Regions from separate parts of the Homo sapiens genome. Here region 2 is linked to region 1. The links come from fine-mapping of genetic effects on gene expression. A gene starts in region 1. The other region holds a variant in brackets. All regions are shown on one strand. Distances are from middle to middle.

The links.
Region 2: its variant is fine-mapped to the expression of NIT2 in blood mononuclear cells (TOPMed, PIP above 0.99).

Annotation. Positions count from the first base shown.
Region 1 is chr3:100,332,063-100,337,445 of GRCh38, reverse strand. NIT2 (nitrilase family member 2) reads right to left here and starts at 2,689. Exons shown (of 10, transcript NM_020202.5): 1 at 2,648-2,689. The coding sequence starts at 2,654. RefSeq lists silencers at 1,667-1,961, 2,360-2,689 and enhancers at 1,930-2,009, 2,130-2,189, 2,210-2,259, 2,353-2,921.
Region 2 is chr3:100,364,536-100,369,918 of GRCh38, reverse strand. TOMM70 (translocase of outer mitochondrial membrane 70) reads left to right here. Exons shown (of 12, transcript NM_014820.5): 10 at 784-881; 11 at 1,753-1,875; 12 at 4,202-5,383. The coding sequence ends at 4,355. Among named protein-coding and RNA genes, the nearest start is that of NIT2, 32 kb to the right of the region's middle. The variant C/T (reference allele first, on the strand shown) is at 2,286.

The sequences.
Region 1 (5,383 bases):
ATTTTCCTTGTTCGAGTTACTAGTGTTGTTTCCATGTCCTGTCTGGACCCTGATGGATACATAGTTCCTGCTTATGGTCTGGTGGGACGCAGCAGTAAAGGATCCAAAGCACATTATAATCTATGAAGCTCTGCAAAACTTCAGGAATTATTAGTGTAGGGAAAAGAAAGAGCGATCAGATTATTACTGTGTCTGTGTAGAAAGAAGTAGACATAGGAGACTCCATTTTGTTCTGTACTACGAAAAATTCTTCTGCCTTGAGATGCTGTTAAACTATAACCTTACTCCCAACCCCGAGCTCTCTGAAACATGTGCTGTGTCCACTCAGGGTTAAATGGATTAAGGGCTGTGCAAGATGTGCTTTGTTACAGATGCATGAAGGCAGCATGCTCCTTAAGAGTCATCACCACTCCCTAATCTCAAGTACCCAGGGACACAAACACTGCGGAAGGCCGCAGGGACCTCTGCCTAGGAAAGCCAGGTATTCTCCAAGGTTTCTCCCCATGTGATAGTCTGAAATATGGCCTCGTGGGAAGGGAAAGACCTGACCGTCCCCCAGCCCGACACCCGTAAAGGGTCTGTGCTGAGGAGGATTAGTGCAAGAGGAAGGAACGCCTCTTTGCAGTTGAGACAAGAGGAAGGCAGGCATCTGTCTCCTGCCCGTCCCTGGGCAACGGAATGTCTCGGTATAAAACCCGATTCTATGTCCCATCTACTAAGATAGGGAAAACCGCCTTAGGGCTGGAAGGGGGACAGGCGGGCAGCAATACTGCTCTTTAAGACATTGAGATGTTTATGTGTATGCATATCTAAAGCACAGCACTTAATTCTTTACCTTGTTCATGATGCAGAGACCTTTGTTCACGTGTTTATCTGCTGACCTTCTCTCCACTATTATCCTATGACCCTGCCACATCCCCCTCTCCGAGAAACACCCAAGAATGATCATAAATACTAAGGGAACTCAGAGGCCGACGGGATCCTCCGTATGCCGAACGCTGGTCCCCTGGGCCCCCCTACTTCTTTCTCTATACTTTGTTTGTGTCTTTTTCTTTTCCAAGTCTCTCGTTCCACCTAACGAGAAACACCCACAGGTGTGGAGGGGCAACCCACCCCTTCAATTAGTAATGGCCTGCCCGAACTTCCCATCCCACCTCTGCTCCAGAGTCTGAAAATCCTACCATTAGAGAGCTATCTCTTTTGGGTGTTTCCTGTAACAACGCAAATGTCTCCAGAAAAGGCAACAATGACAAACCCTGGCCTCTGATGAAGGCCTGTTTGGCTCAGGGTTAACTAAAAGGAAAACTCAGATGTCCCATTCCTTGATCTATCCTAAATATAGTGAGAAGCACTAAATTTAACCCTGAAGGCAGCCTGCTAAATAGTTATAGAATCTGAAGGGAAACTAAAACAGGAAATAAAAGCTGGGATTATTCTGGGGCAAACAGATATTTTGAGCTGTTATCAGAACAGCAGATAAATCCACTAAACGTCTCCCCTCCATTTCCCAGCGTTAAGCCATTCTCCCTCCTCAGCTTCCCAAGTAGTTTGGGACTAAAGGGGCGTGCCACCACACCGGGCTAATTTTGTATTTTTTAGTACAGACAAGGTGTCGCCATGTTGCCCAGGCTGGTCTCCAACTCTTGACTCGTGAACTCAAGCGATCCTCGTGCCTCAGCTTCCCAAACTGTTGGGATTACAGGCGTGAGCCACGTGCCGGGCCATGTCTGTGCTTCCGAGGGTGGGAAAGATAAAGCTCACCATGGCTACGCTGATGGCTTCCTCTCCTACACATCTCACCCACAAGGGCGGGGTCCTCAACTAAGCTTAGGACTGCCTATCATTCTGCAAATGACCCACTCTACAGACATGCTGCAGCAGGGAAACCCCGCCACTGGGCAGTTCCTCATGCTGAGGAGGAGACGCCCGTCACTCCATCTCATCTGTAAAGTGAAGACTTTTAAGGCTGCCCTAATATTCATCATAATCTAACAACGAAGACCTTACCAAGGGGCGGAAAAAAAGAATAAAATACTGTGAGCGAAGGAAACAACAAAGGAATAACATTTAAAGCAATGTGCCAGGTCCTTCACACATTAACATCATTGTGTGAGGTATCATTAACATCATTTTACAAATAAAGAAACAGGGGACTTGCAGGGGGAAAGCTGCACAAAGTCACTGAACAAAGTAAGTGACACAGCAAGAATCCAAGTCAAAATCTGGAGCTGGAAAGTGAGTGGGGAGACGAAGAACCGCCTGGGCACCTTTGTGCAGGGCGGGGCTGGAGGAGGTCACGCAACTTGAAAACACCCAAGGGAGTTGGATCCTACCACCGCGGCCCACACCGTGGAGAAATACACGTCCATCAGCCTCTGTCAAGCAGGACGCGGCGGGTGCCGGCGCGGCCGGGTGGCCTGGTGCTTTCTGGGCCTCGCCCGCCACCCCGGAAGCCTGGAATCCCGGGAGTGCGCCCGGCCGCCCGGCCACGCGATCCCGGACCCACGCGGACGCCCGCCTCAGGGAAGGCCGCGCACGGCGGGGACGCGGGGCGGAGGGGCTGAGCCGGCCGAGCCACCGCCGGCGCCGCTCCAAAGCCTCCCCCGCGGCCCGAACTCGAGCTGCAGCGCGCGGCCGCGCCACTTACAGGTCATGACTCTGCAGACAAGCACCACCTGCGGCGCGGACTGAGCGCTGGAGATCCGGCGGACCGCGGCGTCGCTACGGTGGGGCGGGGACCGCGTCAGAGGCCCCGCCCCACCCCTCCTCCTGGCCCCGGCCGGGAGGAGAGAAGGGTCTGCGTTCATTCCAGTGCGCCTGTAACACCAGGACGGACCAACGAGAAATGGTTAATTGCAACACAGTCCGGAAAAAGCATGCCTCGAAAGGCAAAGGGCAAAAGGGAACGGCCTAAGTCGAGGTGGTGTGCTGGTGAATGTCTTAACAACCAGACTTTTCAGGGAGGAAAGCCCTGATTTGTAGCGTTTGCTGATTCTCCGCAAAAGGACTGAACTTCTAGCTGGTTGAATCACCTCTGTGGCCAGGTTAACACCGTATGCTGATGGGCTTGAGCTATTTGAACAAGTCTCTGTGACGGGGACGGAATGACCCTGGTTGGTTTAGGCACGCGAGACGTCTGTAAAATCTGACTACAAGGCTGCTAGGCCAACGGGAAAGATGCTGAGGGTTCAACGCCATGCCCTCAACAAGTCAGTCCTCGAATACATTGTCATCTCTTTGCTAATATCCTTTTTTGTTTGTTTGTTTTAGACAGGGTCTCACTCTGTCATCCAGTCAGGAGTGCAGTGCAGCAGTCTCAGCCCATTGCAGCCTCAACCTCCCGGCTCAAGCGATCCTCCGTCCTCAGCCTCCCAAGTAGCTGGGACTACAGGCACACACCACCACACCTAGCTATTTCTTTTCCTTTTTTCTTTTTCTTTCTTTCTTTCTTTTTTTTTTTTTTTTAAGTTTTTTACTTTTAATAGAGGTGGGGCCTTGCTATTTTGCCCAGGCTGGTCTCAAACTCCTGAGCTCAAGACCCTACTGCCTTAGCCTCCCAAAGTGCTGGAATTATAGGCGTGAGCTGCTGCGCCCAGCCTATAGACTATGATTTTTGCATTTTTATTTATTAGATTGCTTTTTAATTTTCGTGTTTTGTGTTTTTGTGCCTTGTCAGACTTGTGGAACAAAAATCCAAAACTTAACCACCTTTTGGAATGCCCCAGAATAGTTTATACTGAAACAGATCTTGGTTTGTAAAAGAACACTATAAAAACATTTTGGGGGCAACTAGGGAGATTTAAATATGAACGAGATATTTGATGCTTTTCTGAATTATTTTGTGTGCTATAGTGTTGTGCTTGTGACAATTCTTTACTCTTAGAAAATGAGGAAGTATTAGGGATGAACCATCAGAATGTTTGACTTGAAAATCGTCAGCAAAAAGAAAACACATAAGATAAAGCAAATATGGCAAAATGTTAATTATTAAATCTAGGAGGAGGACACAGCTGTTCATGGTACTAGATTAAAACTTTGTAGAAGTTTAAAATTTTAAGCTTTCATAAAAAAAAATTGGGGGGAAATACATAGCAGTTATGGTCTTTCTGCAGCTTAAGAGACTATCTGGACTTGGCTTTGTAGCAGGAAGATCTTTAAAAACCTTTTCATTTCTGCTATGCTTATTAACCTATGAGGTTTCAGGGTCAACCTGTGGTCACTTACAACCTGTTAAAAAAATTCATCTAGATTTCCAAATTTATTGGACTAACATTGTAACTAATAGTGGTCCTAAACCTGGCTGGAAATGTTATTTGAAGTGCTTGTTCAAAATGCAAATTATTTCATTTTTTTAGAAGTGGATTCTTACAGTGTTGCCCAGGCTGGTCTCAAACTCCTAGGCTCAAGTGATCCTCCCACTTTGGCTTCAAAAAGTGCTGGCCTTATAGGCATGAGCCATGGCATCCAGGTGGAGATGCCCAGTAGGCAACCGGACCAAAGCCTCAAGCTCAGAAGATGTCTGGGCTGGAAATTGACTTGGGAGTCACCAGCAGTTTTAACTAAGAGGAAGCTCTGAATTTGGATGAGAACACACAAGCGGAGTATGAAAGGCACACGCAAAAGAAGAAGGGCCTGTGGAGCCTGGGAAGGAGCCATTAGAGGAGAAGGACCAGGCCGGGCGCCACTGCCTGGTGGAGGAACAGCTGTGTCCTCCTCCTAGATTTAATAATTAACATAATCCCAGCACTTCAGGAGGTGGAGGCAGGTGGATCAAGAGGTCAGGAGCTCGAGACCAGCCTGACCAGCATGGTGAAACCCCGTCTCTACTAAAAATGCAAAAATTAGCTGGGCGTGGTGGCACACACCTGTAATCCCAGCTACTCAGGAGGCTGAGACAGCAGAATCACTTGAACCTGGGAGGCGAATGTTGCGGTGAGCCGAGATTGTGCCACTGCACACCAGCCTGGGTGACAGAGCCAGACTCCATTAAAAAAAAAAAGAGAGAGAGAGAAGCAGGACCAGGAGAAGGCCATCAAGACCAAAAGCCTATGGGTACTGTGTCCCTCTGTCACATGCAGGGAAACTGCTGACTTGGGCACTAGGGGTGTTCCTAGAAAAGGAAAAGCTAAATGAAAGTGCGCTTTTTAAACCTTTCTTTAGAACTTTCTGGGCACAATGGAAAAGCTAGTCACTGGGTTCTGGTTCTGGCTCTGACACTGATTAGATGTTAATACCTAGGGCAAATCACCTCACCCTCAGGACCTTTTCCTCACCTGTATGTGAAAGGATTTAGAGGCAAAGGAAGAAGAATCTGGCTGAAGGGTGAAGTTTGTGCAGCCCTCCCCACCACCACTCCCCTCACTGTCCCTTCTCTGCAGCAGCT
Region 2 (5,383 bases), 32 kb before region 1:
AGCAGTTATAGCTGCTTTTTAAAAAATCAATAATTTTAAACAAATAGCTCTGAAGACATTTAACACATACATCTTAACTTATACTTCCAAATGAATATTGCCCTTAAGATAATTCCCTGGCCAGGTGCGGTGGCTCACTCCTGTAATCCTAGAACTTTGGGAGGCCGAGGTGGGTGGATCACCTGAGGTCAGGAGTTCGAGACCAACCTGGCCAACATGGTGAAACCCCATCTCTACTAAAAATACAAAAATTAGCCAGGCAAGGTGTTGGGCGCCTGTAGTCCCAGCTACTCAGGAGGCTGAGGCAGGGGGATCACTTGAACCCAAGAGGCGGAGGTTGCAGAAAACAGAGATTGCGCCACTACACCCCAGCCTGGGTGACAAGAATGAAACTCTATCTCAAAAAAAAAAAAAAAAAAATTCCCTTGGGCTGTATTATGATAAATTATGAATAAGTGATGTGACTGTACCTATGAGAATGTGATATTAGAGCTGTGACTAAGAATGGGATTATCTGTATTGAACAGTTTACCAGAGATTATCTGCTGTGGCATATAACTAACCACTTGCTGAAGAAAGAGGATAGTTAAGATTTCATATTTATAGCAGTGCCACCTAAAAACTCCGATAATTAAGATGTAAAATGTAAATCAGTCTGTATCCCCAAAACGTGATAATTTTGTAATAATGAATGAAGTAAATTTTTATAATGAATAATAAGTATACTTTTAACTGCTTAGGTTGACGGTTACCTTAATATAACTGAAGTATCTCCTCACATAGGCATTAACAGATCAACAACAGTTTGGTAAAGCTGATGAAATGTATGATAAATGTATTGATTTGGAACCAGATAATGCTACAACATATGTTCATAAAGGGTATGTATTTTTGTGATTGTTCCAATGAGATAATAAATTTCTTGCATAGTAATAAAATGTATTTATTTTGGCCACTGAGGAAGGGGACTGTGGTAGAGAAGTTAATTGACAAACTTCTTAATGCTCCTAGATGTCTTTTCATTCTTACAGAAATTAGTTAAGGAGGCCAGGCGCAGTGGCTTACACGTAATCCTAGTACTTTGGGAGGCCGAGGCAGGCAGATCATCTGAGGTTGGGAGTTCGAAACCCTCCTGACCAACATGGTGAAACCCGGTGTCTACTAAAACTACAAAAAATTAGCCAGGTGTGGTGGCACATGCCCGATTCCCAGCTACTCAGCAGGCTAAGGAGTGAGAATCACTTGAACCTGGGAGGCAGAGGTTGCAGTGAGCCAAGATTGCACCACTGCTCTCCAGCCTGGGCGGCAGAGTGAGGCTCTGTCCCAAAAAAAACAAAAAGAAAGAAATTAATGTACTATTCTTGCTCTGTGTTAAGGGTTTTAATTTCAAACTGAACATCCTGTCAGCTGTTGGCTTATATCCAAATACGAAGCATACACAAGTGTTCGTGTCCTTGCGTACTTGAATTATCCTAAGAAACTTCACTTAAATTTATATAAAGTGAAAAATAAGGGATGCAAGATTGGTAATAGAGCCTAGACCATTGAACACTTTTTGTAATAAGGAACTTAGACTAGCAAACCAATATAAGCTGAGAAAAAAAACACAATTTGATGCTGATTATATATTGCCTTATAAGTTATAAGTTAACTTATAAGTTCATTGAAGGCAGAAATTGAGTCATATTAATGTGTGTGTATTCCTACTGATACTGGGCCATGGTCACATCTGACATTTTTTTGCATTTGCAGTTTACTTCAACTTCAGTGGAAGCAAGATCTGGATAGAGGTTTGGAACTTATCAGCAAGGCTATTGAAATTGACAATAAATGTGATTTTGCCTATGAAACCATGGGAACTATTGAAGTACAAAGGTAACTTCTGGAGTCTGTTAGGAAATATATGGTAGCTCCATAGATATTTAGCTTTTTGTTCTTATTACGTACATGTTAAAGTCTGTTATGTTCTTTCCTCTTTTCACCTGTATTATTCACGTTGGAAAAAAAAATGTGCTAAGGCAGTGACATAAGGATTGGTAGCCAAGTTGCCAGAAAATCTGGACCCTCCTCCAAAGAAGCATCCAGCCAAATGGCTGGGCAAGTTGCAACATCAACTCAGAGCCCCTGAATTTTCTTTAAAATCAGAGTTGGATAAGAACATTTTTTGCAGCTCTGTCCTTAACCTCTTATTTTGTGTAAGTGTTTATCCAGAGTTGCTCTTAAGATCCACCATTAAAAGGTGACAGCTGTTTTATATATGGGATTTATTGTATACCATCTTAATA[C/T]TGGTATTGCCATTCATTTGAGTTTCCTACTTTAGGCCAAGTATTAAACTTTAGATGTTTCCTAAGTACTATTTCAATTAATCTTCATCCCCATCTTTATAAAGGTGGAGATTATATGATCCCTAATTTAACTGATGCCCAGAGGGCTTAGGTTTACAAGGTTGCACAGTAAGCCAATAGAGAAGACAGGGTTTGAGCTCATATATCACTGATACCACAGTCACTGATCTTGGCATTATCACTTGTCAGGAAGCAGCATGAGTTTTCTTAATTCCCTATCATTCAGCCCCTCCTGTAGTCCTCTCCCTGCTCTACAGTAGGCAGAATATATATAGGCTGGTAAAAAAAAAATTGTGTTTCTTTTAACCATTCTGTACCCACAGTGGCATGTAAATATTAAGTTTTTTTTTCTTCTTTTTATGAGACAGAGTCTCCAGCCCAGGCTGGAGTACAGTGGCACAATCTTGACTCTGCAACCTCTGCCTCCCAGGTTCAAGTGATTCTTGTACCTCAGCCACCCAAGTAGCTGGGACTACAGGCATGCACCACCATGCCCAGCTAACTTTTTGTATTTGTAGCAGAGATGGGCTTTTGCCATGTTGGCCAGGATGGTCTCAAACTCTCGGCCTCAAGTGATTTGCCCATCTCAGCCTCCTGAAGTGCTGGGATTACAGGTGTGAGCCACTGCACCCAGCCTAAATTATTTCTTAATTGCTAATTTGTTAATGTGAATAAAATATTCTTGTACTAGAATAGGATAGGGTGGTAGTTCTTAATCTTTTTTGAGCGAAGCTGTGGATTCTTCTTAGAATAATGCACACAAAAACACTTTGCTTTTAATTCAAGGCTTTCATAGATCCTGGGTTAACTAAAGACCTCTGATAGGGTTTGATGGAATTTTGTTCACGTTAATTGAACTTTGAAAAAATCCATTCTGAACCTTACAATTAAATAAGTGAATTTGAATAAATGAAATTGCAGATTATCCTAGGATTTTGCAGATCTGCTAGCTGTTGGCCTAATGCCAGAACATGAACTCTTGAAAAAAGTTTTTTTTAAAAATAAGCCTATCACGTTGCCATATATTATAATGGGGGATTAAATATAGTCACCCTAGTGGTACCTCTTACTGGCATATAAAGTCTAACTGGCACATATGCCAATAAAATGTACCTTACTAACATGTATGCCAGTTAGACTCTGTATATGCAGGTATATATATATATAGTAGGGACTTAATATTCTTTGTAGGATTGCATATATATGTAGCTAATACTAGTTACTTAAAACAGTTGGTTCTTAGATAGCTGTGGATTTGACCAGAATCAGGCAGAGGCAATAAATCTGAGTATTTATTGAGTAGGTGTGAGGAACTCACATAGACTGCCTGAAGAGTAGAGATGCATGGGGTTGGGGATGTGCTGGTAAGAGATGAAACAGAAAGAGGTGGGCCCACATCAGTCTGTGAAGGTAAGGCCCTTGCATGTCATTAGTGTCCCGGTATTATGTCACTGCTTTCTAAAGGAGTCTCATGTTAACAGTAGAAACATGTAAAATTTAGGAACCAGACGGAATTGTGATTTTAAATAAGCCAATCAATTTCCCTAGTCTGACTGTTCTTATCAGTAAACACAGAATACAAGGGATATAATGTAAGCACATAGTATTTGTAATAGTAGTTGACATTCATTGAGTGCTTTCAATGTGGTAGGTACTCTTGTTTATTTTAAAAGAAGCATTTTACTAGAATCATAGTAGAAACTTAGTGGTCAGACTTCATGTAGCATCACTTACAACCTTCATTGAATATTGTGAAGAAACTTAGTGGTCAGACTTCATGTACCATCACTTACAACCTTCATTGAATATTGTGAAGTGCTTGTTGAATCTGAGACTTAAAAATTTTGTTCTTTTAGAGGAAACATGGAGAAAGCCATTGACATGTTCAACAAAGCTATTAACCTGGCCAAATCGGAAATGGAGATGGCCCATCTGTATTCACTTTGCGATGCCGCCCATGCCCAGACAGAAGTTGCAAAGAAATACGGATTAAAACCACCAACATTATAAAACAGGGGGAAAGCAGACTGACCCTCTTTTTAAAAGTTTACCCCCTCTTCAACTGAACCCTAAAGACACTGTCATGAACTGTGTTGAATGGTGGAAATCAGTATTTCTGTTTGTGGTGTTGTTATTTGTTACATCTGTTTCATGTCTAGGTGTTGTGGGTGTGGCTGTTGAAGGAAGTTTGCAGTCTTGCAGCTTTTATTCCCTGTGCAACAAAAGATTAGAACATGTTAAAGGGATTTTTAAATAAAGTTGCAAAGAGTACAAATGATAATTGGCCATGCAAATAAAAACTGATTTGTTGATTTTTTTTTTAAGGGGGGTTGGCAGTTGATTATGTTCTGGATGATTCCGTCTATATATGTGTGAATAATGTAAGTATTTTACAGCATGTTGATTTTTAAATTAACGTAGTAAATGCTGTAAAATAGATTTATATTCAGTTAACCGCTTTCAGTTGATTTTTTGAAAGAAACAAAGGTTAAATGGGGGATTAAAGTAAAATTGAGAGACCCTTTAAACCATTGTCAGCATGCACAATGCCTCTGATTCTGCAGTTTTAGAAACTTGGTGGCACTTATTAATCCTCTTGGCCCCTTTCCACTCTAATGGATAGTGTACATTCTTCTTAAAGTCCACAACAGCAGATTTTCTTGCAGTAAATTATGCAGATGCAAAATATTCTAATTGATATATGTGTTGGAAGACTGAGTATTGATGGGGGAGTGGACCAGACAAAGAGGTAAGATGAAACAGTAGTGTGTTTATAATTGTCTGTGACTATTTTCTATAATAATTAGTACTATTTAATGGTGAGCTTTTAAAAATGTAGGATAGAGGGTACAGTGGCACTGTATATACTATTTATAGTCTCAGCTACTAGGGAGGCTGAGGCAAGAGGCTTGAGACCAGGAGCTCGAGGCTGTAATGTGCCATGATGATTGCACCTGCGAATAGCCACTGCACTCCAGCCTGGGCAATATAGCAAGACCCCATCCTTTAAAAAATTTTAGAACTTTTTTAAAATCAAA